Regions from separate parts of the Homo sapiens genome. Here region 2 is linked to region 1. The links come from fine-mapping of genetic effects on gene expression. A gene starts in region 1. The other region holds a variant in brackets. All regions are shown on one strand. Distances are between the middles of the regions.

Evidence for each region. PIP is the estimated chance that this variant, and not a neighbour inherited with it, causes the effect.
Region 2: its variant is fine-mapped to the expression of TMEM65 in lung (TOPMed, PIP 0.98).

Annotation. Positions count from the first base shown.
Region 1 is chr8:124,365,333-124,381,514 of GRCh38, reverse strand. TMEM65 (transmembrane protein 65) reads left to right here and starts at 8,814. Exons shown (of 7, transcript NM_194291.3): 1 at 8,814-9,661. The coding sequence starts at 9,358. RefSeq lists enhancers at 8,252-8,441, 8,653-8,947 and silencers at 8,672-8,901, 9,022-9,291, 9,422-9,551, 9,602-9,731, 9,742-9,791.
Region 2 is chr8:124,171,018-124,187,199 of GRCh38, reverse strand. It overlaps FER1L6-AS2 (FER1L6 antisense RNA 2), which reads left to right and starts at 15,678. Exons shown (of 5, transcript NR_103547.1): 1 at 15,678-15,772. The variant C/T (reference allele first, on the strand shown) is at 8,468.

The DNA of each region.
Region 1 (16,182 bases):
CTGTCACCCAGGCTAGAGTGCAGTGGCACGATCTCGGCTCACTGCAACCTCTGCCTCTTGGGTTCAAGCAATTCTCATACCTCAGCCTCCCAAGTAGCTGTGATTGCAGATGTGTACCATCATGCTGGGCTAATTTTTTTTGTATTTTTAGTAGAGACAGGGTTTCACCGCATTGCCCAGGCTGGTCTCGAACTCCTGGGCTCAGGCAATCCACCCTCCTCGGCCTCCAAAAGTGCTAGGATTACAGGCATGAGCCACTGTACGCGGCCTCATATGTGAGGGTTTTTTTTTTTTTTTTTTTGGTATTTTTAATTTTTTTTGTATTTTTAGTAGAAACAGGGTTTCACCATGTTGGCCAGGCTGGTCTCCAACTCCTGACCTTAGGTGATCCACCTGCCTTGGCCTCCCAAAGTGCTGGGATTACAGGCTTGAGCCACCATGCCGGGCATATGTGAGGTTTTGATGCAGTAAGAAGCAATCCCAAAATCACACTGATAATACATAAGAGTTTATTTCTCTGTCTTGAAAAGTCTGCCGTGGGTTGAGGAAAATCCCCAGGGAAGCTGTCCTATATTGGCTATCTATTCCAGGTCTCATCAATTTCACGGAACATCAATTTCAGCACATGTTGTGAATCTCACCATGGTAGGAGATGAGAGAGCTGCATAGTTGAGCACAGATATTCAGAAGTGAAATATGTCAGGTCTCTATTCATTGTCCAAAGCAAGCCACAAGATCACCTCTAACTTCAAGGGTTCAAGGAAGAACAGTTCCCTTGGACCCGGAGAATTGGACACTATTGAATAGCAGTAATTCATAACATTTAAAATATTAGACCTTAAACAGAAAATTTGGCTTTAAACAAAGTATCTATTTGTATGCTCCTAGTACCTAGAGTGATAGCCAGTACAGAGTGGGTGTCAATGTGTTGAATTGAGATATGTTTTAGAAGATGATTTGATAAGTATCTTGGAAAAGGTGTTCAGCATATCTGTATCGACACCTTATTTTCCCTTGAACACAAACAGGAACAGTGAACGTCTTTCAAACACTGACCTTTCTCCTGGGCTCAAAAGCTGGAGCCTTTTCTCAAAAATAGTTCTTGCAACATTTCTCAAAAGGAGACCTACAAATGGCAAACAGGCATATGAAAAGGTTCAACATCACTGATCATCAGAGAATTGCAAATCAAAAGTACAATGAGATATCATCTCATTCCAGTTAAAATGGCTTATATCCAAAAGACAGGCAATAACACGTGCTTGCAAGAATATGGAGAAAAGGGAACCCTTGTACACTGTTGATGGGAATGGAAATTAGTACAACCACTATGAAGAAAAGTTTAGAGGTTCCTCAAGAAACTAAAAATAGAGCTACCATATGATCTAGCAATCCCACTGCTGAGTATATAACCAAAAGAAATGAAATCAGTATATTGAAGAGATATCTGCACTCCCATGTTTATTGCAGCACTATTCACAATAGCCAAGATCTGGAAGCAACCTAAGTGTCCATCAACAGATGAATGGGTAAAGAAAATGTGGTACTTATACACAATGGAGTACTATTCAGCCATAAAAAAGAATGAAATCATGTCATTTGCAATAATGGAACTGGAGGTCATTATGTTATTAACATAATGTGAGATTAACCAGGCACAAAAAGACAATCATTGCATGTTCTCACTTATTTATGGGATCTAAAAATCAAACAATTGAAATCCAGGACATAGAGAGTAGAAGGGTGGTTACCAGAGGCTAGGAAGGGTAGTGTGGGTGTGTGTAGGGGAGGCAGTGATGGTTAATGGGTACAAAAAAAATAGTTCAAAAGAATGAATAAGACCTAATATTTGATAACAAAACAGGGGGACTATAGTCAATAATAATTTAATTGTACATTTTAAAATAAATAAAAGAGTAAAATTAGATCATTTATAGCACAAAGGATAAATGCTTGAAGGGATTCATACCCCATTTTCCATGATGCGATTATTAAGCATGGCATGCCTGTTTCAAAACATCTCATGTACCCCATAAATACATACACCTGCTATGTACCCATGAAAATTAAAAATTAAAAAAATAGTTATTGCAGCATCTAAATATTTCAAAGCCTCACTAAGAATTTGACTTTAAAGTTTGAAGAGAGGGCATTTTATGTCTATGCTTATATTTACTTTAATCAAGACCCTTCCCCAACCTCAAAGGCAAAGGTCAACATGGAAGGGGAAAAAGTTACAAAATAGTGCCTTGAAGAGTCAGGTAGTTGTTTGTGTGTTTGTGCCTGTACATGCATGTGTATGTGTGTGTATGTGTGTCTCTCTGTGTATTTGTGCACGTATGCACTTTTTATGTTGGGTGTGGAATAAAGACTTGTTGCATATAGGTGTGTTATTGTAGGTGTTGCATATAAATGTGATATTATAGGCAGATAAACATGAGCCTCATAGAGTATGAAATTAAGCACAGAAGTTTTGAGTTTCCAAGTGACAGCCCCTTTCTTATATTTTTCATCCTGTTTTCATGAAATACTATGTCTTGCCTTGTGCTTGGCATTTTTTAGCAGGTAGATTAAATCTTTTTTTGTTGTTGTTTTTTGTTTTTTGTGATGGAGTCTCACTCTGTTGCCCAGGCTGGAGTGCAGTTGCATGATCTTGGCTCACTGCAACCTTTGCCTCCTGGGTTCAAGCAATTCTCCTGCCTCAGCGTCCCAAGTAGCTGGGATTACAGGCATCCACCACCATGCCCAGCTAATTTTTGTATTTTTAGTAGGGGGGTTTCACCATGTTGGTCAGGCTGGTCTCAGACTCCTGACCTTAATTGATCCACTCGCCTCAGCCTTCCAAAGTGTTGGGATTACAGTCGTGAGCCACCACACCCAGCCTAGATAAAATCTTTAGAAATGAAGTGCCCCAGTGGTGATGATGAAAAGCCGTATTGAATGAATGGTGTAGAGGAGTACAAAGGACTCAAAAGAGGAGATTGTCTGTTTGAGATTTATTTAGGATTTCTCAGGTATTTTAGACCAAAATAATTCCATAGTTACTTTCTTTGTTTCTGTTTAAATTGTGTATACTTATCATAAACAATTCAAGCAAGAGAGACAAATGCAAAGGAGAAGGTTACAAAAATCATTCAAGTTTCCAACAACAAAAATGACCAGTCTTACATTAGGTGAACATAGTTTCAGGCCATAAACCTCAGCAGTCTCCAGTTTTCCTTCTACCTTGTTGCCTCATGTGCCTCTTACAAGTTCTCACTGATGAGGAGTCCCAGGGTCAGGACCAGACTCTCTGCTCATCTCTATCTTTACCCCAATGGCAACCTGATCAGCTTATAGCTTTAAATGATACCTGGATGCTGATGACTCCCAAATTTATGTATCCAAACTTCTTCCTTTGAAACCTGGACAGCTAGAATGTAAGGGGTTGTTGAGTGAAGGAAAGCTGAGAAAACAGAGATCCTAGTTGTGTTCTCTTTCTTTTAGCTTTAAAGTTGAATTAGTCTCTGACACTTCTAGATATACGGTCTATTGCTAACACTAGTTTTTACATCTTGAGGCCTTTTAATGCTACCTATCATTTGTTGAACATCTACTACATGTTAGGTACTGTGTCTTTCTTTTTTTAAACATACATTGTCTCATTTTACCCTTATGATTCTGTGAGGTAGATTTTCATAAAAATCAAAACAAAACAAAAACAAACAAACAAAAAAAACAAAGGCTTAGATTGATAAGCAACATGTCCGAATTGATACAGCTGGTAGGTGTTAGAGTTAGGATTCAAGCTCAGGGGATCAATCCTCTTTCTGGTATGCTATATCTATTTGTATTTCAATGTGAATTTTCATATCAGTTTGACAATTTCCACACACACACATACAGACACACAAACCCAGCTGGGATTTTGACTGGGATCAAACACTGAATTTATAGATTAATTTGGTGTGATGATTAATTTTATGTCAACTTGACTGGGCCAAGGGATGCCCAGGTAACTGGTAAAATATTATTTCTGGGTATGTTGGCGAGGGTATTTCTGGAGGAGATCAGCATCTGAACTGGTAGACTGAGTAAAGAAGTTCACATTCACCAATGTGAGTGGGCATCATCTAATACACAGAAGGCTGAAATAGAACAAAAAGGCAGAAGAAGGGTAAAAATACTACCTCTGCCTGAGCTGAGGCATCTGTCTCCTCCAGCTCTCGGACATTGGTGGTCCTGGTTCTCAGGCCTTCAGACTTGGACTGGGACTTACACTTGTGACCCCCTGGTTCTCAGGCTATCAGAATTGGACTAAATTATACCACCAGCTTTCCTGGGCCTTCAGCTTGCAGACAGCAGATAATGAAACTTCTCAGCCTCCATAACCATACCAGCCAATTCCTCATAATTAATTTCATTCTGTATATATTTCTATATCCTATTGGTTGTGTTTCTCTGGAGAACCCTGACAAATGCATTTAGGGAGAATTGACATCTTATACTACTGAGTTTTTCAATCTTGAATTGGTATTTCTCTCCACTTATTTAAGTCTTCTTTAATTGTTCTAATAAGACTTTGTGGTTTCCATTGTGAAGAAACAATTTATTCACCACCACTGTGATGGGGCAGAGGCCTTCCAGGGGTCAGAATACTAAGGCAGGAGCTTGATGGATGAGAAGTGCAATGAGGAAATTGCAAAAATATGGGCAGAAGAAATGATTAAAGGGTCCACTAGGTAAAGCAACAATTTCAAGAATTTTAAAGCAGAATAGCTGGGTGTATAAAGTTTCATCAATGGCAGGCAGCAAACAGCTGTGTGCCCTGCCAGCAACAGGGAAGCCAGGAACTCTGGAGCGTATTTATATGATGCAGCTTACCATGGACTGATGATTCAGCAGCAATTTTTCATGAGGAGGAAACTGTGATTGTTAACCGAGGTATGACAGTTGTCCTCTTTAAAAGCGAAGAACAGGCTGGGCTGAACTCAGGCCAAGTTTGCCTTCTGGGCTTTCCTTCCTTCTATCTTCCATTTCTGTAGCCCCTCCAGCCTGCTAGCATTTCCTCTTCAGCACCATCATATTTCTTCGGAAACTCCCCTTTGCCACCTGCATCTAGACCTGCTCCACAGCCCCATAAACGATCCCCAAATTATCTCCCTCCCTAGATCCTTCATCCATTCATATTTAGGATATTCAGGTGTTCAGAGAAGGAAGTGGTTAGGGGATGCAGTTAATACACATCCATGTATTAAATGACAGATAGCTAGGTGGGCATTTCTCAAATGAGGGTCCAAAGACATAATCGTAGAGATTTGAGAGGTCCGTGGGCATTTAGATAATAATAGCTAGTATTTATTGCATGCTTGTCATGTATCAGGTGCTGTTTGAAATGCTTTACATGTATTATTTGGTTTCACTATAACATTACAAAGCAGATGCCCTTATCTATATTTAACAGGTGAGCAAACTGAACATGTTCTTATTCCCATTAAACAGATGGGCAACCACGGAAAGGTTGATCAGCTCAAGGTTACACAGCTAAGAAATGACAGTATAAGGACTCAAATCCAGGCAGTCTGAGTCTAGAGCTAGTGCTCTCAACCCCAATGCTGTCATCTGGGGCTCAATTGAGCCTGGATGGTCCAAGATGCTGTCATGCATGTTTGGCAGTTAGCTGGGGCTGTTGGCTACGGCCTCCTCCTCCATTTGGTCTTTCCAGCAGGATACATCAGACTTCTTTATGCAGCAGCTGGATTCCAAAAGGTAAATGTCTTCGAGGCAATTTTTCCATGTGGAAAATTACCTTGATGCAATGGCAGCCTCCATGTATACACCTACAGGTCACGAAATAGATAGGCTTATAGGCCAAATTAAGAAGCTTAAATCACATTATCTGGTGGTTCTAAAACGTATCCTCAAAGGTTTTGGCATTACTCCTATTAAGATGTGGGGTTTATATCCCTTTCCCTTGAATAGGGGCTGGCCCTAGGGGTTGGCTTATAGCCAGTAGAATACAGTGGAAGTGATACTGTGTGACTTCCAAGGATAGGTCAGAAAACGCCACAAGCCTGCTTCTTTTTAGACATTCACTCTGGGGAAAGCCAGCTGTCTGGTGAGAAGATCACCATGCTGGAGTGGCTGTGTGAAAGTGCTCTGGTTCTCAGCCCCATTTGAGCTACCAGTCAGCCATGTCAGTGAGCCATCTTAGCTATTCAGCCCAGCTGAACTTTCAAATGACAGCAGTTGTGTTGAAATCTGATTGATACTACATAAACGACTCCAATAAAATAACTGTCCAAGTAAGTTCTTCCCCAATTTCTGAGCCTCAAAATTAAGAGCAAAATAAATTGGCTAATTAAACTACTAAGTTTTGGCATAATGTGTCTACCCAAAGAGCAGCAATAATAACCAGAAGAGTTTACCAACCAACATAAAACAGAGTGAGAAGCAAGGGGAAAGAGATAGGGTAGATTAATAAGCTTAGGATAGGCTGAAGGACCATAGCACCTAAATTCTGTTTTATGCAATGTTCTCATGTCTTATCCCTCTCCACCATCCAGTCTTCTCAGCACATAGTGTGGCTACAAGGACCAGACTGGAGAGTAAGTAAGGTGACTCAACAGACTGAAGGGGCCTGGGCTCAACATATGTCTGTTCTGTTACAGAGCTGAGGGGCAAGTGTGTCTGGTTATAATGGTAGCTGGCATTAGTTGGCTTTGTAGCTGGGGGTTTATCTGCTTTTCTTGGGAAGAGATTACATGAGGCCATAATAGCGTTACAATGGGTGTTACCAGTAGGTATGCAATTTAGGGATGACATGGCTGTAAATCTGAAGATAGTATGATCTGTACCTTATTAATACTTAAAAGTCCACTTTGTCTTTCTGCCTCTATCTAAAGCAGCATTTTCATTTGTTCCATCCTTTTTATCTATGTTCAACCCATATCCATTCATTCTATGTGTAACCTTTCTCATAAGTGACTTGCTTCTACATTTTAGTTTCTCTTGTTTTATAATAGAATTAAATATTCTATAGTAATATAGCAAAAGCATTACAGCAAACCCCAATGAGCAAACATGTATCATATCACGTTTATGATGTCCTCCTATTTATTGACCAAAACAAGTCAAATAGCCAAGCCCACAGTCAATGTAGAGGTGGACCACACAACGGAGCGGATAATAGAAGGTGTAGTTCATTGGGGATCACTACTATAACAATCTAATACTAACACATAGTTAGGAGACGGTTGATCCAGGGATCGAACTTTCCACAGTCTGTCTCTGGAGGCTACACACTAAACTACTATTCTGGAGGTGGTTGGGAATGGGTTCTTACTGAAGAACTTTTTTCAAACCTCACTTCCCAGGTCTGGGGCCTGTGATCCACCCCAGTGAATCAGAATATCTTGGGGGTAGGAAATTGTGGGGGGGATGGGGTGGTACTCCCATGAGCCTGAGACTGAAATAGCTCTGCAGAGGATTCCAGTGCACACTAGGGAATGAAGGGGGTTTCAAAGACAAGGAAGATATACTTTATGCACTCAAAAAGCTTTCATTTCCACAGAGAGCATTCTTAATTGTTGTTATTACATCACAGAGGCATCACCTTGGAATTTAAAAAAGAAGCGATTCCTTTCAATGTTTAAGAGACATCAGTGTTTCTCAAGCTTTCGTGTGTGTTATTACTGGAGGGCTTGTTAAAACCCACATGACTGGGTCCAATGTCTACGTTCTGATTCAGGAGGTGTGAAGTGGGGTCCACTATTTCTCACGTCTAAAAAGCTCTGGGACACACTTTGAGAACCAGAGTTAGAGAAGTAGGAGGCTTTAGTGGTAACAATCCTCCATTATTCAGTTTAATATTCTACTTACATGTAGCACATTTACTACCTACAAGTTTCCGGGCTGAGTGCAGCACTGTTTATGATAAGGATGGGATTTAGATCTTGATTACGCTCCAGCAGATTTATTAAGTGGATTTATTCTCTAAGGGTGCCTAAGCGTCATTAGACAGGTTCAGATAAAGCAGAGATCTCCTCCCTTAGAAGAGATTAGGGACAGCTTAATGAAGTAGGAGACCTTTCACCTGGGCCTTGAAAGATGCCTAGGACCTGGATCAGGGGAAATCGTGGACAATCAAATTATTCTTCCCGCTTTAGCACAGAGACAAAAAAATCACAAGCAACCACTAGGAAAGGTCTATGACATTCTTGCCTCTGCCTCTAGCATTAACAATTTGCATGCCAGCTGCTGGAATCTGAACGGGGAGGACTGTTCTCGTGTCAAGGGCTCAGTCTCAGACCCTCCTTGGGCAGGGGTGGAACTGGCTTCGCTTTCTCTTTGGGGCGCCCAGAGCGACTGCATTAGAGCCGGCCTGCTCGGCCGAAGCGGCGGTGGGCGCTGACTTGGCGAAGGGCGCAGCTGGGGCGCTTCGTTCCGGAGCAGAGCGCCGTGATCCCGTCGGGGCTGGGGTGGCAGCGCAGCTCTCCGCCTGTCCAGAGCGGGGCCGCACGCCGGGGCACCTTTCAGAACAAGCTCCAGATGTGGCCCCAGGTTGGGGGCCGGGTGGCAGCTGTACTACCCTGGCGGGCGAGGGGTCCAGAGCTCGTTTTCCCTATTCCGATCTGTAGGTTTAACGCCAGCACAGGGTGGCGCACCCTACCTCCTTCCACCTTCACGCACCAGCGCGGGAGGGGACGCGTGTGCACGCTCCTCCCCTAGGAGGGAGGGCGGCCCGAGAGCCTGCAGACTGCGCCTGCGCAGCCTCGCTCACACACCTCCCCGCCCCCCCGCACCTCCTTCCCCTTTCGCCCCGCCCCGTTCCCACTTCTGCTGCCGCTAGGGGTAGCGGCGGCGGCGGCGGCTGCGGCTCGGGAGCGCGGCTGCTTTGAGGGCTCGGGAACCTTACAGAGTGGGGACGTGGGGAGGCTAGAGGGTGAGAAAGCTGGCGGGAGAGTAGGGCGGCGCTGGAGGAGGGCGGTGCGTGGCTGACTCATCCTCTGGAAGATCAGACTGACAGAGACACACACTAGCCCGCCCCGCCCGCCCGCGCCGCTCCTCCTCAGCCGGGAGGCGCCCGCCCGCACCGACCGCCCGCCCTCTCCGGGCGCTGTCCGGGCCCGGCCGTCTCAGAGAAAGTTTTTCCCATCGGAGGGGCGGGAGCCGCCGCGGGCCTTTTGGAAAGGAAGTGGGGACGGAACAGGAGGCGAGAGCCGCGCGGGCCCGCGGAGTGCATGGTGCCCGGCGCCTCGGCTGCCTGGCAGGAGGACCTCGGGGCGGGGTCGAGCTGAGCCCAGCTCCTTCTCGCCTCAGCCGCGCCAGAAACCGCCTTGCCGGACGGCCGCGGGGGTCCCAGCTCCTCAGCTCGCCATGTCCCGGCTGCTGCCGCTGCTGAGGAGCCGGACCGCGCGCAGCCTGAGGCCGGGCCCGGCCGCCGCCGCCGCGCCCCGCCCGCCGTCCTGGTGCTGCTGCGGGCGGGGGCTGCTGGCGCTCGCGCCCCCCGGCGGCTTGCCGGGCGGCCCCAGGCGGCTGGGCACGCACCCCAAGAAGGAGCCCATGGAGGCGCTGAACACGGCGCAGGGCGCGCGCGACTTCATCTACAGCCTGCACTCCACGGAGAGGAGCTGCCTGCTCAAAGAGCTGCACCGCTTCGAGTCTATTGCCATTGCCCAAGGTAAGGGGGGCAGGTGGGGGGCGAGCCCGGGGGCCCCGACGCCCTCCTCTTCTCGCCAGCCCACCGGGAGCCCGCTGCGGCCCTGGATCTTGGACCCCCGCCGCCGCCCCCCTTCCGCCCCCCTCGCCTGTCTGGCCCCACGCCTGGGACGGCTGGGGGCGGGGAGACTTTCCGCCGCCCGAGTTTCCCCCAGGCAGGTAGGACGGGCGCGGGTCGTGCCAGGCAGCCGAGGCCAGCGCTAGCTACTTCCTCCCCAGCCTCCGAATCCGGAGCTTCGGCCTAAAATGCCAGTTAACGCTGTTGGGATTGAGTTTTGATTTGCCCCGTGCCTCCCCTCCCCAGCCCTCCTGTCCCTTAGCCCTTGCTGCTTTCTTGCGAGCGTGCACCCGTGCAGGTGGCATGCTGTGCCTGCTCCGAGAAAGTGCTGCAAACCCGCCTGGCAGGAAGAAACTTTTTGAACGGTTATCAAATGAAGACGTATGGGTGGGTAGCCAAAAGAAGGGGTGTAGCTTCGAAAGTCAGGGATGCTCATAGCTGCTTGTTTCCACACATGTCTGATTGCGTTAATTTCAGCAGCCAAAGGAAACATTTTCTCCAGAAATGGAAAGACAGATTCAAGTTAAACTCCAGTTTTGGTTTTTCCCAGAGGTTGAAAGAATGAAATAAATAAGGAGGTATATTTTTTGGAAATCTGTGGCTCTGTAGTAAAAGTCAGACTGATGCTCAAAAGTAATTGGGAATGATGAAAGCAAAACGATTTTTAAACTAGCATGTTAAAATAGGATATTTCTAAAAGGAGTCCAGAATGGGGTAGGGCAGAATTTGAGTCTAGGTGAAAAAGCTAAAAGTTCAGAAAATAAAAAGGATGAAAGGAGCAAACGACTAAAATGGATGTCTTAAAATATTTCTGCCACTTAAATACAGTTATGTAAACAAAACACATTGCTTCAGTTTGTATTACATTCTGATGTGTTTGAAAGTTTTAAAAAAGTTTACTCTCCTCTCTAAACTTGGTAGGTACATAAACATCTCATAGATTCCAAAGTGTAGAGCACATTGATTCGGATCATGCCATTTGATTTGCCAGACTTGAAAGTATATCTTTAGCTGATGTGCAGGAATGGAGGAAAGAATTATCTACCTCATGTAAGCAGGACGTTATCTGTACTACTTCAGAAACTTGTTTTAGTTGTGGCTTTTAATCAGATGTTTTCCCCCTCAGTTCAGGAAATTGTGGACCAATTTATAGTGGATGATTGATTCCAGACATTGTTTACCCACAGTGCTTTTACAGGAAAATGTAACGTCCGATCAATTCCGTTATTCAATGTGTAATCATGATGTTATATGCAATCATAATGAAACACTAGCACATTTGTAATCTATGTGTGCACTCAGTATGCAGTTTAAAAATAGTCAATTCTGAAAATATGCTCCTTGGAAAAATAATATAGTCAGTCATGTACTAGAACATTAACTTTTGAATCTTTCTGCACTGACAAGACTATTTGAACACACATTTTACCTTTTCCAAGTAATTTCTTGGAAATTCTGCATTGTCAACAAGTTACAAGATTGGAGGGCCCTATGAATATAGTTTTGTGGCAGTTCTTGAAAAACATGTCCTGCAAGGTGACTGAATAATTTTTTTCTCATACATTATTATTTTTTACATGCCAGCAGTATTGCAGTAGCAATGCTACATTTCCTAATAAAGATAATATTTTTAAATTTAACGTGGTTTTAAATATTCTGAAAAGGACCTAAGCACTTTAGTCAATGGAGATCATTAGCATCAATTAAACTTAGTTATGTTACTAATATGAGAGAGAAATTAGTAATTTAAATTGTCTTCTTTGCTCAGGAGAAACAGTCAAGGATATTTGAAACAATGGTTAGTCAGATGCTTATCTCTCCTCTTTATATGCTAAAGAACATCAAAGTTTAAATCAGCTATTTTTGCTGATGTCGATGACAAAATGATTGTCCTATGAATCAAATGACACAGATGCTGCTGCTTTGTTAGTGTATGTAGTCTTGGTGTTCACTTACTGTTTTCAGTATCAATACATATAGTTATGGAGATAACTAGAATCATCACTTAGGAAATTACCTTATTCATTAATCATTAAGGTAAAAGGGATTTTATTATGTTGGGAATGCGTACAGCTCATTCCATTGCTGAAATCAACAATTTTTTTCCAGCCAGATAAATGAAAAACTCCCATGTTTTCTTTTATTGTTGCTTTTTGAATAATGTTTTGAAGTACTCAACCGATGTATTGTGTGTGTGTACTAAGTGTACTTTCTAACAAAATTAATTCTATTTAAAGGGCTATTTCTTGCCATAGGCAATCTTGTGTGTCTTTGGAAAGGGTGCTTGTATAAACTAATGAAGTGTTTTGGATTTGGTATGGAAATGTTACTGAAAAAATATCATCCATGCTTTGATATGGCAGTGGAATCTGCTGTTGAAATTTGGCACATTTGCCCTTATCTTTCTTATATGTTTATCAGTAGGCATGTGATATAATCTGTGATGAGATAAAGCTTTGGAATCAGTTCGTAATAGATAAGGCAGACCTTGTGGGATATCTTATCATAGTTAAATAGAATATTGTGATTTTTAAAATTACAAACCAATTTCTTTCCCAATTTAAAAAAAAGTTGAGTTTGCGCCTTCAATTTACCTGCTCAGCCTGATCTCTCTTCTTCCAGAAACAGACCATATTCTGCTGATAGAGCATTATTCATGTTTTTACAAGTAGTACTGGCAAGCTGACATTATTACAGTGGCCTTTCAATGTTAGCCAAAATTTTTAAAACAAATTTTCTTCCCAATTTTTGTAATTAATATTTCCATTTATAATTATTTTTTAAAGCTTTTAAAATATAGCAATTTGGTATTGAAAAATAGACAGTGCTCATTGTATTAGTTATCCATTGCGGTATAACAAATTATCCTAAAACACAGTGGCTTAAAACAAGCATGTATTAACTCATAATTTCTGAGGCTCAGGAATGCTATAGCATCTTAGTTGAGTATTTCTGGCCCAGGATCTTAAGAAGTTGAAATCAAGCTCTCAGCTGGGGTGGCATCATCTGAAGTCTTAACTGGGGCTGGAGGATCCATTTCCAAGAAGTCTCACTCACATGGCTGTTGGCTGGATGTCTCAATTCCCTCCCATGTGGTCCTCCACAGGGCTGCCTGAGTATTCTCATGACATGGCAGTGGGTTTCCTCTAGAGCAAGTGATGAGAGAGCGAGAGAGCAAGAGAGAGCGAGTGTGTTTGCAAGACAGCACCTGTGGGCACCTAAGCTGGAAGCCACAGACTTTTATAACACAGTCTTAGTAGTGACAGTCCATCTCTTTTGTCCTGACACATTGTGGGAGAGTACTACAGAAGGTGTGAATACAAGGGAGTGGGAATCATCGGGGGTACATCTTTGAGGCTGGCTTCCACACTTATTTAAGGTGGTGTAATTAATGCTCATCAGAGAGTTACACAGAGAGACAAGAACTGGCTATTGGAGAGGTAAAATGAGAGATATGTTTTGAAAAAAGGAGCCTCTTAGGGAATATTTTTGTTATAATATGTATACTATAAGCCACAGACTTTTAAAACGCAGTCTTCGAAGTGACAGTCCATCTCTTTTGTCCTGACACATTGTGGGAGAGTACTACACAAGGTGTGAATACAAGGGAGTGGGAATCATCGGGGGTACATCTTTGAGGTTGGCTTCCACATTATTTAAGGTGGTGTAATTAATGCTCATCAGAGAGTTTACACAGAGAGACAAGAACTGGCTATTGGAGAGGTACAATGAGAGATATGTTTTGAAAAAGGGAGCCTCTTAGGGAATATTTTTGTTATAATATGTATACTTAAGATATTTAAAAAATGAGATTGTTTTTACATATAGCAAATAAAAGATGTATTGAGGTGAACAGAGCAGTTTTTCTATCAATGTTAGGTCTCAATTAGCTTGCATTTTTTGATTACTCTATGTGAGTGGTAATTGTGTGCTTTTGACATTTTTTACCATTTATCTACGTCTGTATACATTAACCAAATAATTCTAAACTTTAATCTTGTAGTCCCCCATTTTTTGTGATTGTTTAAGGTAGGGTGAAGAGCTTTGTTTTGAGAACTTGCCATATAGTATAAGAGGACGTTGACAAAATGAAAGACTGAAAGATAAAGAGCTTATACTAAATTGAGTATCTAAAACACTTAAAAATAAATTAGGCTTTCTTATGGAATCCCTGTTCACTAGAGATCTTGGACCTTTAACAAGATTATCCTTATTTTTTTTCAGCCCATTGCTCAGGATTATGTGAGAAAATAGAAATTCTTTTCTTAAATTTTTTTTATTTTTTGAGACAGAGTCTCACTCTGTTGCCCAGGGTGGAGTGCAGTGGTGCGATCTCAGCTCAGTGCAACTCCATCTCCCAGGTTCAAGCGATTCTCCTGCCTCAGCCTCCTGAGAAGCTGGGATTACAGACATGCACCACTGTGATTGGCTAAGTTTTGTATTTTTAGTAGAGGTGGGGTTTCACCATGTTGGCCAGGTTCATCTCGAACTCCTGACCTCAGGTGATCCACCGAGCTTAGCCTTCCAAAGTGCCGGGATTACAGCTGTGAGCACCGTGCCTAGCCTAAATATAAATTATTTTAAGCTATGAGCCTCTGGAATGGATTGGGAATAGTTTGCTTTTGTCCAATAAGAAAAAGGGCAAGAAAAACATTTTATACTGCAAATAAAGATACGTGAATAAAGATATTTCAGTGCCTTTGTTGAGATAGTAAAAAGGAATAAGGGAAGTATAGCCCCACCTAGGCCCGGCAAGAGGGGAAGAACAAGGACGTGGATAAGAAGTATGAATTGAGGCAAGAGGAGTGAGAGATCTCTGATGAGCCATGGGCTTCTATAAGTTGAGTTACACTCAGTTAAATGAAGCTTTGCTACAATCAGTTATTTTACCAATATGGAAAGAACCTAATTACAGTAGTATATTTCAGCAAGCTTAATTCTGAGTTCTTTAGAGTTACGGGGTATGTTGGAATGGTCTTATTACTAGGGATTACTGCCAGTAGAAGACAGATAATCAAGTAATCAAGTAAAGTTTTTTTTTTTCCATTATGAAAGGCATATATGCTGTTTAACAGTGTTTAATCATCACTTACATATAACATGTCCAGAGTTACGTGTGACTTCAAATAACAACCCTTCTATCATAGCTCATGATTTTGTGGATCAAGAATATAGGCAGTTGCAGGTACAGAGTTCATAGGAAATAAAAAAATAAAATTGAAAAAAAAAGGATATAGGCAGGGCTCAGCTGGATGCTGTTTCTTATGGTATCTATGGAGGTCATTACATAAACTTTGGCTGGCTGATGGTCTGGTCAGAAGGTCCAACATCGGTTTGTTTATGTGTCTGGTACTTTGGTGGATGGCTGGAGGGCTGGCCTCAACTGGAACTGTTGACCCAAGGAGATGGATGTGGCCTCACCAGCATGACAATGTTAGCATGGTTGTAATACTTAGGTCAGGGATCCCAGAGAAAATGTTCCAAGGGGGCTGGGTAGAAGCTGTAAGACTTTGTATTAGTTTTCTTTCTCTTTTTTGAGACGGAGTCTCGTGCTGTCACTCAGTCTGGAGTGCAGTGGTGTGATCTTGGCTCACTGCAACCTCTGCCTCCCGGGTTCAAGCGATTCTCCTGCTTCAGCCTCCCTGAGTAGCTGAGACTACAGGCACACACCACCACACTTGGCTAATTTTTGTATTTTTAGTAGAGGTGGGGTTTTGCCAGGTTGGCCAGGCTGGTCTGGAACTCCTGACCTCAAGCAATCCTCCTGCCTCGGCCTCCCAAAGTGCTGAGATTACAGGCGTGAACCTCCACGCCCGGCCTGTATTAGTTTTCTATTGCTGCTGTAACACCACAAATACAGTGGCATAAAACAACATATTCTCTTAGAGTTGTCAAAGTACAAAGTCCAAAATAAGTCTTAAAGGACTAAAATCAAAGTGTCAGCAAGGCTCTGTCCTTCTAGAGAGTCCAGGGCAGAATGTATTCTTTGCTTCTTTCATCTTTTGGGATTCCTTGGTTCCTGGACACATCACTAAAATCTCTGCTCCCTCATTGACCTTTTTGCCTCCCTATTATAAGAACCCTCATGATTATATTTAGGTTTTACCTGGATAATCCAGGATAATCTCACTCTCTCAAAATCCTTAATTTAATTACACTTGCAAAATTCTTTTTGCCATATAATGTAACATATATACAGGTTAGGGAATTAGAATGTGGGATATCTTTGGGGGCCATTATTCATCCTACCACAGACTTGTTATGACCTAGCTTTTGAAGTTCCAGAACATTATTTCTGCTGCATGTAATGGTCAAGCAAGTCACTAAAACCAGTTCAGATTCAAGGGAAGGGAAATTAAAAGGAGGACAGAAAGGTGATTCCTTATCAGACTCTTCACCTCTCTATTAAATAAACTTTTGGGTAA
Region 2 (16,182 bases), 190 kb after region 1:
CTTCAAAGTTACTTTCCCTGAGAAGCTTTTCCAGATAGTGTGGTCTAGATCAGATCCCCCTATTGAATGCTTACTTTCTATTTTTAAAAATCTTTTTATTTTGACCCAATCTAAAACTTGTAGCAAAGTTGCAAGAATAATTAAATAATTCTTGTATATTCTTTATCCAGATTCCCCAGGTATTTGCATTTTTCTTCATTTGATTTCTCTTTCACTAGACACACATACACACAAACACAAACACACACATTATTTTATTTCTAAAATATTTGAAAGTTACAAACATGGTGTCCTTTTACCCCTACATGTTTTAGTATGTATTTTCTAAAAACAAGGATTATTCTCTTACAGAATCACAGTAAAATTATCAATTTATGAACATTATAATGGACAGAACACTATTATCTAATGTATAGCTCTTATTCGTATTCCTATCTGGTATCTATTTCTCTGTCTATCTTTTCACCAATTGTCCCAATACTCCCCTTTATAGAAAGAGTAAGTCCTGGATGATGTGTTGTATTCAGTTTCATGTCTCTTTGACCTCCTTTCATCTTGAATAGTTCTAGTTCTTCCTTTGTCATTAATGACATTGACATTTTTGAAGAGTATGAGTCATTTAGCATAATGCCCCTCAGTGTGACTTGAGTTTCTCAGATGATTAGATTCAGGTTATGGATTTTTGGCAGGAATATTATAAAAGTACATTGTGCTCATTTTAGTGAATGATTTCAGGAGGCACACAATGTTCGTCTCTCTCATTACTGAGGATGTTAACTTTGGTTAAGGTGATGTTATTTTCTTCACTATAAAGTTACTATTTTCCCCTTTATAATTAATTATTATCTCTTGACAGAGAGCCTTTGAGGCTATATAAATACCTTCTTAATTATTAAATTTTTCACCCACTAGTTTTAACATCCATATCAATGGATGCTTTAATCAATTATTATTATGATAGTTGCCAAGTGATGGTTTTCTATTTCCATCATTCCTTCTACATTTATTTGTTGGTGTTCTAATTTAAGAAAGAGAGTTTCCTTCTCCCATATTATCCATGTATCAGTATGGACTCATGGGTTCTTTTTTGTTTGTTTTTTTTTGTTTGTTTTGAGACGAAGTCTTGCTCTGTCACGGGGGCTGGGGTACAGTGGTGTGATCTCGGCTCACTGCAGCCTCCACCTCCTGGGTTCAAGAAATTCTCCTGCCTCAGCCTCCCGAGTAGCTGGGACTACAGGTACATGTCACCATGCCTGGCTAATTTTTGTATTTTTAGTAGAGATGAGTTTTCACCATGTTGGCCACGATGGTCTTGATCTCCTTACCTTGTGATCCGCCCGCCTCAGTGGATTGCAGGTGTGAGCCATCGTACCTGGCCAGGTTCTTACTTTATTGTATGGTTTAATAATTCACTACTATTGCTGTTTATTGTGATGCTCAAATTGTCCCAGAAATGGCCTGTAGTAGCCTCTTCAAGCTGTCTTCTATGTTCTTTTGACAAGTTTCCATCATTCTTCAAGGACTTCCTTACTTCCTGGCACACCAAGATGTTTTAGGCTGACATCAGCAGCATGATGGGAGCATCAGGACAGCCTTTCTCGAAACTCTTCATGGTCTTTGGTTCTCTCCCCTGTTTCCTCCATCCCTGCTCTGGGGAAAGATGTCCTAGGAATTTGAAGAGTGCACAAAATGAGGCTTAAGGTTCCTGACTCTTTGGCCAGTGATCTACCAGCCAGCAATCTGTGTCATCCAAGAGTCCCTGGATCCAGGGACATGTTGCTTCCCCACCTGTCCTCCCCTTGATACCTGGATTTTTAAAGGCATTGACTTGCCTCCACCTCAGATTTCTCTTCTCTGTGAGCATTCCCAGTTCCCAGACTTGGGCTGGGTATTGGTTTGATTTGAATTTAAGGAAAGTAATTGCCAAATTACTGAATAGTATATCTTTTGTGGCGATGGTTGTATTCTGAACAACAGAGTAAAGGCAATGTTTGGACTGTGGAATCCTGGCTCTGCCATTTTCTAGCTCTGTGTTTTTGGGCAAGATGTTTAACCTCCCTAAGTCTTAGTCTTCTCATTTGTAAAATGAGGATAGTAAACATCCATTTTGAAAAGACATTGTGAAGAAATATCCAATAATGCTTTGGAAAATAGTACCTGGTACCTGGTGTTATTAAATACTGGCTTCCCCTCTCTCCCAGTATCCCTTTATCAGATCTTGTTGAAGGACTCTGACTGGCCTTGCATGGGTCTATAAACTCATCTCTTAGCCTGGAGAATGCTGTATTCTGATTAGATGAGCCTGGATCATTTGTCTACCTCTTTGGGGATAGGGTGGGAATAGGGTGAAGTGTGCTTGGTTCCACCTGATCCACATGGAATGTACTCAAACAGGAAAGAAGGGGGAGGGGTGAAAGGTGAACAAACAGATGTCCATGCAGCTCTTAACCCTCACCTGTCCTTCTTGATGACCCCTCTGTTTCTGACTTATTCCTTCCCCCCATTTCCCACCATTATTAAAACTTCCAAGCTCAGCATTTCATTCAAATGGGTCTGATATCTGAATGTTCAATAAATATGCATTGATTGAATAAATAAGTAATGGCTTTTTTTCTTACTCCATCTGGGGAATTTTTAATCCCTGCAGGAAGCCTCCTTATAGGTCTGAAAGGACAAGTGAAGAAATCTAGAACTCGAAGAGCTATAGAGAGGGTCACCCAACAGGAGCCAAGGCCTTGGGTGGAGGAATGCAATCAACTTTAGGCAACCCTGTGGGGCCATGCTTTAGGGAATAAACACCCAACCTCATTCTTCTTCCACCTGCTAATCTCCTCTTGATGCCTCTCCCTGGCCAAACACAACCCGAAGCCAGAGGGCAAAGCAGCCTGCTAATGTAGTCCATCTGGGTCAGCTTCCTGGGGGCACAGAGCAGGTGGGAGAAGTAGCCAACAGATCTGAGGAGGAAACAAATTATCCAGTATACCCTTGTATCTTTAGCACCAAGGCATGGTGTTATCAGTGAACTGATTAATTCATTAATTTGCCTGATAATTCTTGAGCTTATGTGTTACCTCTTAGAAGCATTCCCTGATGTGCCCAGCCAGAGCTTTTCTCTCTTTGCTCATTACCCCTTTTTATTTTTTATTTTTCTATTTTTTTTTGAGACAGAGTTTCACTCTGTCACCCAGGCTGGAGTGCAGTGGTGCCATTTCAGCTCACTGCAACCTCTGCCTCCTGGGTTCAAGTGATTCTCCTGCCTCAGCCTCCCGAGTAGCTGGGACTACAGGCATGCGCCACCACGCCCAGCTCATTATTATTATTATTATTATTTTGTATTTTTAGTAGAGATGGGGTTTCGCCATGTTGGCCAGGCTGGTCTCAGACTCCTGACCTCAGGTAATCCGCCCACCTCGGTCTCCCAAAATGCTTGGATTATAGGCGTTAGCCACCACACCTGGCCTCATTTCCCCTTTTAAACACTTCCTGAGAGTTACCATAGGCATCTCTCACACATCTGTCTCCTCCCTGAGGCCCCTCTGAGCTCCCTAAAGCAGGGGCTTGTTTGAATTCATCTGAGCACCTCCAAAACTGAGCACAGGAGGCTGACTCAGAGCAGTGTTTAGAATGTGCTCTGAAAGTGAACAGCCATGTGGATGATTCATTGAATTGAGCTGATGCAAAAGACCTTGCCTGAGATGGTCCAGTTGTCAGCCCATAGAAGGGGGGTGGTGGAGCATGTTCTTTGCACAGTGGCTGCGTAGGTGTTAGGGCCTTATGCGAGACTGCAGGGGGACTGTGGGATTGAGGGATTGTGGCTGACTATGGCAGACAATTGAAGTATGACCCAGTCCTGGAGCCCCTTGCTGAGAGTTAGCAGACCACCGTTGTAGTTCTAGCTGCTACATGTGAGAGATAGTCCATCTTGGTAGTTAACAGGATGAGTATTGGAGTCAGGCTACCTGGTCTCAAATCCTGGCTGTGTGACCTCAGGCAAAATCCTTAACCCATCTACAAAATGGGGATGATAAGTTAACCTGGTAAAATTATTATAAGGACTAAGAGAGTTAATTCACATAAGGTTCTAGGGACAGCATTTAGCCTTTACTTGTAGATATATTCATTTACTTACTATAACTTCCAATTTACAGATGGGAAAGCCGAGGCACAGAGAGGTTAAATAAATCATCCATGTTCACACAGCCACTAAGTGGTAGGGCCAGAATTTAAGCACACACCATTTGGCCCTTAGTGACCTTCCTGAACCATTGCACCATTTGGCTTTGCTCCATGTGGGCAAGTCCTTAAAGAATATTATTATAGGACCTGGGAGCTGGAAGAAAGGAGAAGCTCAAAATGGAAAGTTCTATAATAATAAGTATAAGGATAATGGTGTTTTATAGATCAGCAAGATCTGATGGCAAGAACAAATTTCAATTCCCATTTTTCTAAGTGTCTTCTCCTTAAACAAGATAATGCAGATAAATCCATAATAATTAGCTCACTTTCCTTAGACTGGGTCCTGGAAATAAATAAACTAATGAAAAGGCCTTCATCTCTGATGTTACAACCTTGGGCAATGGACCGGTGAGGGTCAGGCACTAATTTTGATGTACAGGATGCGGTGGGAGGAAGAACTGTCTAAGACTTTGCTACCCAAATTCTGCTCCTTAGACCAGCAGTGAAGACTCACCTGGGAGCTTGTTGGAAATGCAGAATCGCTTTCCTCAACCCAGACCTATTGAATCTGAATCTGTATTCAACGTTGAAACAATTTTTAACAAAGCAATTCATATGCACATTAAAATTTGAAACACTATTACTGATGCTTGAGTCCTACATATCCCCACCCCACCCTCTCCCCCCAAGTCAGAAATTCTTAAGTAATTGGCCTGGGCATTAAGATTTTTCAAAACTCCCCATCTTCCAACATGGGGATTCCAAAATGCAGCAAAGTTTGAGAACCGCTGTTCTAAGGAGATGAGCCCTAGAGAAGGGAGCAGCTATAGCTGGCATACTGTCCTCCTGTTGAGACAGACTTCAGACTCTACCCAAGTGCTCTGATTTTAATTGCAGCTGCTCAGGACAGCCTAGTCCTAGTCCAGCAGGAGCCACAAAGTGCCTTCTGCCACTAGCCACAGCCATTTTACAAAATGCCTGGGCCACAAAGCTGCTTTGCCGTGAACCCTGGGCAGAAATTAAGAGTGGAAGGATGAGTATTATAACTTCCTTCTACTACTTCTATTATTCATTATGCCCAGTCAATGGGTCTAATTTTTATTTTTAAAAGCTTCCTTCCTATTGAGGAATTTGGCTGATTCATGGAGATATGTTTGGCAGCATTGAGATAAGTTTTGGGCTGGAATTTAGGAAACCACGAATTCTTCCAGAAAAGGTCAGAGGAAAAGTTACTTTCTGTTGTGAAATTAAATAATTCAAACCTAAAGCTGGCGGAACTTTAAATTATGTTGAGCCTTGAGAGCAATGCGGCCATGTGACCTGAGTCATATAGCATGCAGCTGCAACTTCTGGTTTTTCCTGTAAATGATTCGGAAGGACCGAATGGTGCCAGAGTTAAGACCTTTCCAGGCCATTACCCCTCCTTATGGAATGTTAAAGGAACCTTCCTTGGCATGCAACAAGCTGTAACCAATCAAATCACTGTAACATGTACTGACCTTGCATGGAAAATGTTGTAACCCTATTACACTTCTCTGTCTCTGCCTTATAAGTGAAACCTTAACTTCTCCACTTTGGAGCACTGACCCCATTCCTTTGGAGTCTATGTTTCCCAAGTGGCTATCCTCAAGCTTTGTGCTGAAATAAACTCAATACTTCATCATATTTTCTGAATTTCATTATTTGAGGGTGACACTTCAATAACACATTAGTGGCGAAAATTTTCTTCACTTCTTTTTTTTGAGGTAGGTTTGATTATGAATTGAACATGGAAATTGGACCTAAGAGAGAGAGAGAGACAGGCCTCACTGAGTGGAGTTAAAGAGCATATAAGTCTACAAAGCCGAGAGATTCAGGGACCAGCCACATATTTGCCACTGAATACATCTGAAAACAGCCAACCTACGTGCTTACTCTGTGCTAACCTTCATTCTAAGGGCTGTGCAAGGATGACTTAATCCTCATAATAGCCCTATAATGTGGAAACTGTTGTCATACCCACTTTACAGAGATTATCATCAAGGCTTAGAAGAGTTACGTGACTTGCTCAGGGTTGCTCGGCTTGTAACTGCTGGAGCTGGCCTTCCAAATCAGGCCTCCCAACGGACTCCCAAGCCCGCTGCCTCTGATATACCACACTTTCTACTGAGAAGTAGCATGCTGGAATTCTAAGAAGGTGTCATTTTAGTTCTGAAACAACGGAGGAAGAATTTTACAAAGAGGCCAGATGGAAAGAGAGTTGGATAAAGGAATAATATGAAAGCACTCTTCAGTCTGGGCAACATTTGGAAGAGGTTACACTGCAACTTAATTTAGGCGAGTCTTTTTCTGGGGACAAGGAAATGTCCTTGTGGTCAACTCAGTAGAATTTCATTTTAACAGAGCCAGTGGATTCTCAGGTTTCTGAGAACAAGCACGCCACTGCTTTTTGTCATTAGCATGTAACTGCTGTTCAAGTCAAACTGGTATTTAGTGACTATGAAGTAGCAAAGGAAATCTGAGACGAAAATGCAAACAAATCTGCTTGCATGCTGCGGTCACCGTCTTTTGCAAGTTTATTCAACCAGTGTTCATTGAGTGGGTGCCTTGTGCCACATCCTGTGCTTCACAGATTACAGTAGCCCACTTATCCTTGAGGAGTGGGCATAGTACCCCAGTCTAGAGATGGGAGCACTGAGGTTCAATGAAGATCTGAAATAGGTCTCAGGCTGACTCCAGAGCTTGTCCTCTTTACTGTATATCCTCTTGACGTTATAGTCCAAGGGATCTCCCTTTATAGTCCAAAGGAATCTTTCTTGGCATGTAACAAGCACAATCTTAAACTTCTTAAGCTTCAGATGTACCTGGGGTGTTGATTAACAGGCAGATTCCTGGGCCCTACTTCAAGTGAATCTGATTCTAGAAGTCTGGAGTTGGAGCCCCAGAAACTGCATGTTCAATCCTAACCCCCAATTTAGTGGTCTGAAGACTGAACTTAGTGAGTGCTATGTCAGTACTTCTCCCAGCCCCAGTCCCTGCCATAAGAAATTCACAGCTCAATCAGAGGAGGCAGACACACAATGGATTATTACAACACAAACGTGTAATCTCTAAAAAGAGGATAGGTCCTAGGATGTTCAGGCATCTGTTGTCCAGGTAGAAAGAAACAGCTGTTGGTGGGAGCAAGGCATGGCACGAAGGGGAGCAGAGCTACAGCCCTTTCCCCAGAACGCCTGTGACAGCAGACACTCCCTTTATAAACTCAGGCTTCATGCCCTTGCAGCTAGCACCACCCCACCCAAACACCACACACACACACACACACACACACACACACACACACACACACACACACAGACACACACACAGACACACACACACACACACACACACACTCTGCACCTCTCATTAATAATCAAGTCCCGTTGGCCAGAGCTTCCAAACGCTCTGAAATCTATGCATTTTTCTCGTCCTCACTGGTATTACTGTAGTGCAATCCACCACCACTCCCCTCTACCATGCAATAGCCTTCTAAAGGCACCCATCCTTGCTCCCCTCTAATTATTTTCTACAGTATCCAGGGTGATCTTTTGAAAATGTAAATCAGATTTACACATCACCCCCACCCCCATTTTAAGCTTCTCTATAGACTAAAGCCCAGATCATTATGTGTCTTGGTCTGCAAGCCTTTTCCCCATCTGGTGCTGCTTGCTGGGCAACTGCGAGGCTCACCTCCCTTATCCCTAGCACTCCATGGTCCTCATGCAAAGCCATGTGCAATTCTTCAAACCTGTTCTTTCTGCCTAGCTTTTCCATAGACTGCTCCCTCTGCCTGGAATGCCCTCCCCACCTCCGTCTGGGTAACGCTCAGAGTGCAGGGCTCTGCTCAGATGCTACTTCAGGAAGCCTTGTGACCCCTCGTACCATGTGAATTGAGTGCCCCTTGTCTGTCTCTCACAGTCCTGCCCATTTCTTCTCCGTGCACTCTGCACCCAGCACCCTGTATTTTGACTGCTTATTGCTCTCTCTTCTCCACTGGACTATAAACCCCATGAGGATAAGGGCTCACTTATCTTGACCTCCCTGTGTGTCTGAGTCATGCACAGTGCTGTGCTCAGGATGGGCTCGTGCCATATTGTTTGGGTGAAGGAATGGACAGTGGTGGGTGATGAGTGTCATCAGTCCTGGTAATTTGGTCTCAAAGACCCTTCCAGCCTTGTTCCCAAGGGCCCCTTACTATTTACTTTCATCTTGGACCTGGAGGACTTGATTCCATTGGTCCAGAAATGAACATTTTTGACAAGTTCTGTCA[C/T]TTGATGCTAATGTAGGTGATTGCTGAATCTTTTCTTTTCTATTTTTGAGATGGATTCTCTCTCTGTTGCCCAGCCTGGAGTGCAGTGGCATGATATCGGCTCACTGCAACCTCCGCCTCCTGGGTTCAAGCGATTCTCCTTCCTCAGCCTGCCAAGTAGCTGAGACTACAGGCGTGCACCACCATGCCCAACTAATTTTTGTATTTTTAGTAGAGATGGGGTTTCACCATGTTGGCCAGGGGCTGGTCTCAAACTCCTGACCTCAGGTGATCCTCCTGCCTCGGCCTCCCAAAGTGCTGGGATTATAGGCGTGAACCACTGCCCCCAGTCCCTGAATCTTACTTGGAGAAATTCTGCTGGGTCATTTTCAGGCAGGGCTGAGGGGTGCGGGGACTCTCTGAGGGGTGGGGGGACTCTCTGAGGGGTGGGGGGACTCTCTGAGGGGTGGGGCTTGTCTTCTCTCTGTAAGGGGGACAAATGTCTTACCATGGGGGTAGAAGAAAAGAGCATAAAAGAGGGCAGAGCCAGTTCCTGTGGGCCTGTCCTATTTAACAACAACATAATGACAGCTAATATTATAGGATGCACGTTATGCACTAGGCCTCACACTAAGTGCTGTTTGTGGATTATCTCATTTGATCTTTCCAACCACCTGCTGAGTTGAGTACTATTATTCCCATTCTACACACATTGAAACTGACAATTAGAAATTGTAAGTTAAGCTGCCAGTGACCGGCAGATCTTAAATTCGGTCACTCCATGACTTTTCCTAGAATGTAGGGATGCAAGGTGCAGTGATTTCGGACTAGAAATGGATCTAAGGAAAATAAAGTTTCAGTTGGAAGTGAAAAGGAGAAAAAAGGTGGGATGAGAAGAAAAGAACTAAGAGGTAGAATTCCAAGCTCATTAACAGCTGGTCCTTCTGATGTTCCCAGCTGTAAGATGCCATTACTACATGGTAAGCCCTGGAAATCAAATTAGTGTGTCTCAGCCCAACCAGCCTAAGACCATCAGGGACAACCACGTAGTCTGACAGAATCAAATTTATTGACACATTGTAATGAGGGAGATCACACACCACAGAATCACGGAGAGTCTCACCAAACAAAGGAAGACGGAGTTATCATAGGAATTGGGGAAAGTATGGAGGTCAGGGAGAGCTGAAATGAAGCAGAGTTTTTATAAGCACAAAACAAATCAAGGCTGTGTATAAAGGGACCATCAGTTCTGAACAGCAAAGTGGAGGCAGGCTGCTGTTTCCCTGGAAACTACCAAGTGAAGGTAGACATGAAATGTGTCTAGAAACTCCTTATCTGAAACTCTGTAATGGAGTTGGAAATCGATGCTGCTTTTTTGTGTCAAAGTGACTTGGATTCTCCAGGCCAGAGTGGGCTATCTCATTCTTACTGAAATGATTTCAGATGGTGATGTTTCTAATAGTCTATGATTTTAGAGCACAAAGTCCCTCAGTGAGTAAGAAGTAACAGTCACAGAGAAGGGTTTGCTATGACATGTTGTGGCTCCTGGGGAGAAATATTGTCTCCTATCCACGCAGCTGTTGAATGTATTTGTGCCGGCATTCTTCTCTGTCTTATCTTTTTCTGTTGTCTTAATTGCCTTATTCTGCCTAATCCGTGTTTAGTCTGATGAATGGCTAGGCAGAATTTTTAAATTTATATTTAATTTTTAACATGTATCTTTTTATTCCCACAAATCTCATTTTAAAATCGACAAATAAAAATTATACATATTTATGGTGTACAACATGTTTCAAAATATGTACACATTGTGGAATGGCTAAATTGAACTAATTAGCACATGCATTAACCCCATACCATTTATTTGTGACAAGGACACTTAAAATCTACTTTCTTCACAATTTTCAAGTATGAAATACATTGTTCTTAACTATAGTCACCATACTGTACGATAGATCTCTTAAACTTTTCCTCCTGTGTAACTGAAACTTTTGTATTCTTTGACCAAATCTCTGCAATCCCTTAGGCAGATTTTTACTTTCTCATTCTTGGCTAATTTTTATTTTCTTCGGGCTCACATGTGTATTGGTTTCCTGTAGCTGTTGTAACAAAGTACCACCAACTGGGTGGCTTAAAATAGTAGAAAGACACTGTCTCATGGTTCTAGAGGCCAGAAGACCAGCATCAAGGTGTTGGTAGGGTTGGTTCCCTGTGGGAGAGTCTTCTATCTATTCTCTCTTTCAGTTTCTAGTGGCAGCTGCCAGTCCTTGATGTTCCTTTTCTTGTAGATGCTTCACTCCAATCTCTGCCTCTATCTTTGCGTGGTGTTCTCCCAGTGTCTGTCTTCACATGAGGTCTTCTTTCAAGGACACCAGTCTTATTCAATTAATTAGGGGCTCACACTACTCCAGGATGACCTTATTTCAATTTAGCTAATTACATTGCAAATACTTTATTTCCAAATAAGGTCACATTCTGAGTCCTGAAGGTTAGGACCTCAACATAAGCTTTTTGGAGGGACACAATTTAACTTTTAACAATGAGGAACAAAACACATTTGTTTCTAGGCCAGGGCCTAATGAGAATTAGTGCCTTGTCGCTACTCAAGTGTGGTCCACAGACAGGCAGCTTCTCCTCACCTGGGAGTGTACTAGAAATGCAGAATCTGGGATCCTGCTCCAGTCCAATGCATCAGAACCTATATTTCGACATTATCCCCATGTGATTTGTCTGCACATTAAAGTATGCAAAATAGAGTTAGTGCAGAAGCTTATTGCCCAATAGCAGCCCTGGGGACACTGCCAGTTTAAAATCTATTGGTTATTAGGAATTAAGATCCTGAAAGAAACCACCCCAGCCAGATGTGGTGGTGCATGCCTGTAGTTCCAGCTATTCAGGAGGAAGAGGTGGGAGAATTGGCTTGAACCCAAGAGTTCAGCCTGAGCCATATAGCAAGATCCCATCTCTAAAACAAACCAAAACAAAAACAACTCTTTGAAGAAACCAGCAACTGTAACAGTGGGACACAGCTAAAGAGGAGAGATTGGATTTGGGTTGTAGGTCTGCTGAGGCCTTAGGGAGGGCTGATGGGGAAGGAAGAGGAGGGAGCAGAACTGGGGCTGCTGGAATTACCCCAGCTGTTTCCAAACAGTGCAGACGTCACATAAGCACTGTAGGCCTCACTTTCCTCATCTGTAAAGTGGGCTAATACCTCCTATCCCAGTGACTGGTGTGAGAATTAAGTGTGAAATGGCAAGGGTAAATGCAAAATGAATAGCAGTTGAAGACACACAGATTGGGTCCAGCCTGAAAGAGGCAGCTGGGAAGGGGAGGCAGCTCATTCTGTCATGTCTTCATTCATTCCACATTTAGTACCTCCTCTGTGCCTGACGCTATAGTAACAGGAGTAAGTCCTCCTGTGACTCATGGTTATATGGAGGAGAAAATGAGCAAGTTTCTGAGCACTAACAATGGAAGCTGACTCAGGAACTTCTCACAGTGTGGCCCATGGGTATCAGATGGGGCACTCTGGGCCCCAGCTTGCAACAGGCAGGCTAATTCCAGGCTTTACTGCATGGTTTTACGCTCCTCTGCCTCCTTTCTTCTCATCAGTTTGGTTCCAAAAAAATGGTGGATGTGAGTCTGTAGCTGTCAGATTTAGGTGAGTCTAGCCAGTTAAAAACAACAAGGCCCAGCACTTGAGAGGCCGAGGCGGGTGGATCATGAGGTCAGGAGATTGAGACCATCCTGGCTAACATGGTGAAATCCCATCTCTACTAAAAATACAAAAAAGAAAAATTAGCCAGGCGTAGTGGCGGGCACCTGTAATCCCAGCTACTCAGGAGGCTGAGGCAGAAGAATGGTGTGAACCCGGGAGATGGAGCTTGCAGTGGGCCAAGATCACGCCACTGCACTCCAGCCTGGGCGATAGAGCTAGACTCCGTCTCAAAAAACAAACAAACAAACAAACAAACAACAACAACAAAAAAAAAAACAAGGCAGCTTCCATTCTGGAGAACGTAATGGATAGATTGTCTCATTTAAGTTTCCAGGCAAAACTTTGAGGGGTAGTAGGGGTATACCAAACTGATGTCAGCAAACCTAGCAAACCTAGGTCTGAATGCAGGATGACTTGGATAAGCTGCTTAACTCTGAGTTTCCTAATTATTTTTATTTTTATTTATTTATTTATTTTTGAGACAGAGTCTCAATCTGTCACCCAGGCTGGAGTGCAGTGGCGTGATCTCGGCTCACTACAATCTCCACCTCCCAGGTTCAAGAGATTCTCCTGCCTCAGCCTCCTGAGTAGCTGGGATTACAGGCCCCCACCACCACATCTGGCTAATTTTTGTATTTTTAGTAGAGATGGGGCTTTCACCATGTTGCCCAGGCTGGTCTCAAACTGCTGACCTCAAGTGATCTACCTGCCTCTGCCTCCTAAAGTGCTAGGATTACAGGTAAGAGCCACGGCACCTGGCCTCCTCCTTATTTTTAAGTGGGATAATAATGGTACCTACCACACAGTGCCTGGCACATGTTGATAATGTTAGTCTTTTGTAGAATTGAATCTTTCAAGTGTCAGTGGCAAGTGGACCTCCTGCTGCCTTTCCCTCTAGGAGACACTAGGTGCTACCCTGACTCTGAAAGAGACACCCTCTGCTCCCCACAAGTTCTCAGATGCCGGGTAGGCTTCCCAGAGCCCCTACAATGATTTAGCATAGGCTTTACTGAATTGTAGAAGAGAAAGAAGAAATTCGACATTCTATTTCCGAGTAATGAGCAAATTGCCATTTCTTAACGTTATTTCTAAGCCATTATGAAGAATTCAACAATCAGCGCTAATGAAGAGAAATAAATACCACATGGGAAGAACCCTGGGCACCAGCTTCAAACTTGTTCTGAATTTGGGCTCTGGGAATAATCTAATTTCCTGAAAAATGTTGCCTTTTTTTCTTTCTGTCTCTCACCTGCTCTCCAGTGGAGATGGTAAGAAAGGTTAAATGAGAAAGAAGGAGATTCAAGTTGTGATCAAAGCAATTGGAAGACTTTCCATTATTTTGCTTTAGTTTTCATCATAGAACTTCTCAATTTTTCAATAATTACAGTTTGTTTTTTCTGCTTTCTCCCTGCACTATAATCAAAGCTGCATGAGACTAGCAACTTTGTTTGATTCACCCTGGCACCCAGCACAGTGTCTGGCACATAAAAGCACATGCTCAATGAATGTGGGTTGAATGCATAAATGAATGATATACTCAAGAAGTTGCTCTAAACCCTGATTATAATTCAACAATACTGTGGGCTTTTCAAAAAAATTCAAGTTTCCAGATTCTTCATCCCAGAAATTGATTCAGAAATTCTGGCGTGGGTCCCCAAAAAGAGCATTTTTAAATATCTGTTTATATCTCTGGAAGGATCCATGAGAAATTAGTAACATCAGTTGCTTATAGGGAGGGGAATGGGGCAGATGGGGGCCACAGATAATAGGGAGACTTTTAACTGAATCTCCCTCTGTGTTTTTAAAAAACGTGAGTAATATATTATGTACTCTTAAAAGAAAAAAAATTTAAACTAAAGAATAAAAAATGTTTAGTCCAGGTGATATGCAGCCAGGATTGAAAATTCCCATTACAGACAAGTTGCTATTTCAAAGAGGAGCTGGGATTGGACAGCACGATTGAGAGGTGGGCCCCTGCTCAGCTTGAGTAATGGGCTGTCACTTAGGCAGGCTGGGAGGAGAATTTACTCTACAGGACATTGCTAGGTCCTGTAATCAACTGGGGAGAATGAGAGGGAGCCGTTGTCTGTTATTTATTTATTTATTTATTTATCTTTAGATGGATTCTCTCTCTGTCACCCAGGCTAGAGTGCAATGGCGCAATCTCAGCTCACTGCAACATCTGCCTCCAGGGTTCAAGTGATTCTCGTGCCTCAGCCTCCCAAATAGCTGGGATTACAGGTGTGTGCCACCACACCAGGCTAATTTTTGTATTTTTAGTAGAGACAGGGGTTTTCCATGTTGGCCAGGCTTGTCTCAAACTCCTGACCTCAGGTGATCCTCCCCTCTCAGCCTCCCAAAGTGCTGGAATTACAGACGAGAGCCACCGTGCCCAACCAGTTTTCTGTTATACCAGGTGTTCAGGAACCTCAAATCCTGTGTTTGAGTTAAAAAGAAAAGAAATTTCCTGTGTGCCGAGATAACCAAGTGCTCAACAAGAAGCCAACATGTCCATCCTTAATTAGTAATCAAAGTCTTACAAAAAAATCAAATCAATTTTTTTTATCAGATTGGCAAAGATTACAAGAATAATAGCTAGCCTTGGGGGAGGTATGGAGAAACAGAGTCTTACATACTACTTGTAGGAGAAGAGTGCTACAGCCTTTTGGGAGAGCAATTTTGCAATTCAGGCCAAAACCCTTAAAGGTATTTACATGACACCTTTTGCTGTGCCGAACCTTTATTAACCTCATTAGGGAAGACACCAGGTTCAAGAGGCCAGAAACCCAGCAAACAAGACATAGGGTTTTATTAGCGGCTTACATACAGGGGAGAGAGTCCAGTGGCACCGGGCTGGACAAGATATCCACCTTATATCCAGGCCAGTGGTGGCAGGCTGGGCAGGAAAAACACAACGGCCTGCAAACAGCGTGTAGTTTATATAGCATTTTCAGTTAACAGCTTCCCCTTAACGACCTCCACCTGGCAACTTTCAGGTACCCCCCCCCCCCCCCCCCCCCCCCCCCCGCCGCCCAAACTCAGGGCCTCAATCCTTCCTTATGGCCCATGTTCAACGGGACGGGACGGGACGGGACGGGGACTCAGATGTTTCTCATAAACAAGGAATGAATCTCTGGGTTGGCCACTCCTGGATTCCCTAGCTTGAAACACACATTCAGGTGCGTCTGCCATACAGGTTTATTCTAATTGTATGCTTAAATTATTACTCTCAGGGGCTTTTACCCTGCACCTTAGTAATGGTGTAGTAATTCTTGGATTTAGTAATTCGGCATTTAGCCCATGGAAGTTGAATGGTTTGGTTCTGTGTTCCCACCTACATCTCATCTTGAATTGCAATCCCAATTATAATCCCCAGGTCCAGGAAGGGACCTGTTGGAAGGTGGTTGAATCACAGGGGCGGTTCCCGCAAGCTGTTCTCGTGATAGTGAGTGAATTCTCACGAGAGCTGATGGTTCTATAAATGGCGGTTTCCCCAGCTCGCTCTTGCCTGCTGCTACGTGAGACGTGTACGCTTCTGTTTCACCTTCCGCTGTGATTCTAAGTTTCCTGAAGCCGGCTACCCTGCTTCCTGTTAAGCCTGTGGAACTGTGAGTCAATTAAACCTCTTTGCTTTATAATTAGCTAGTGTTAGGTGGTACTCTTTATAGCAATGTGAAAACGGACTAATACAGAAGAAGTATTCAGCCAAGTGAGCAAATTAATATACGTAAAGGTCTTTATATCATAGTATTTATAATAGTGATTATGTTGGTTAGAAACTGTAAACAATATAAAAGCCAACCAATATAGGATCATTTAAATTATGGTATAGTCATCTGTCCCTTACTATTCATGGAGGGAATTGGTGCCAGGACCCCCCAACAGAAGCGAAAATCTGAGGATGCTCAGGTCCTTTATATAAAATGGCACAATATTTGCATATAACCTACTACACACAGTTTCCCATACCTTAAATCGTCTCTAGATTACTTGTAATACATAATTCAATGTAAATGCT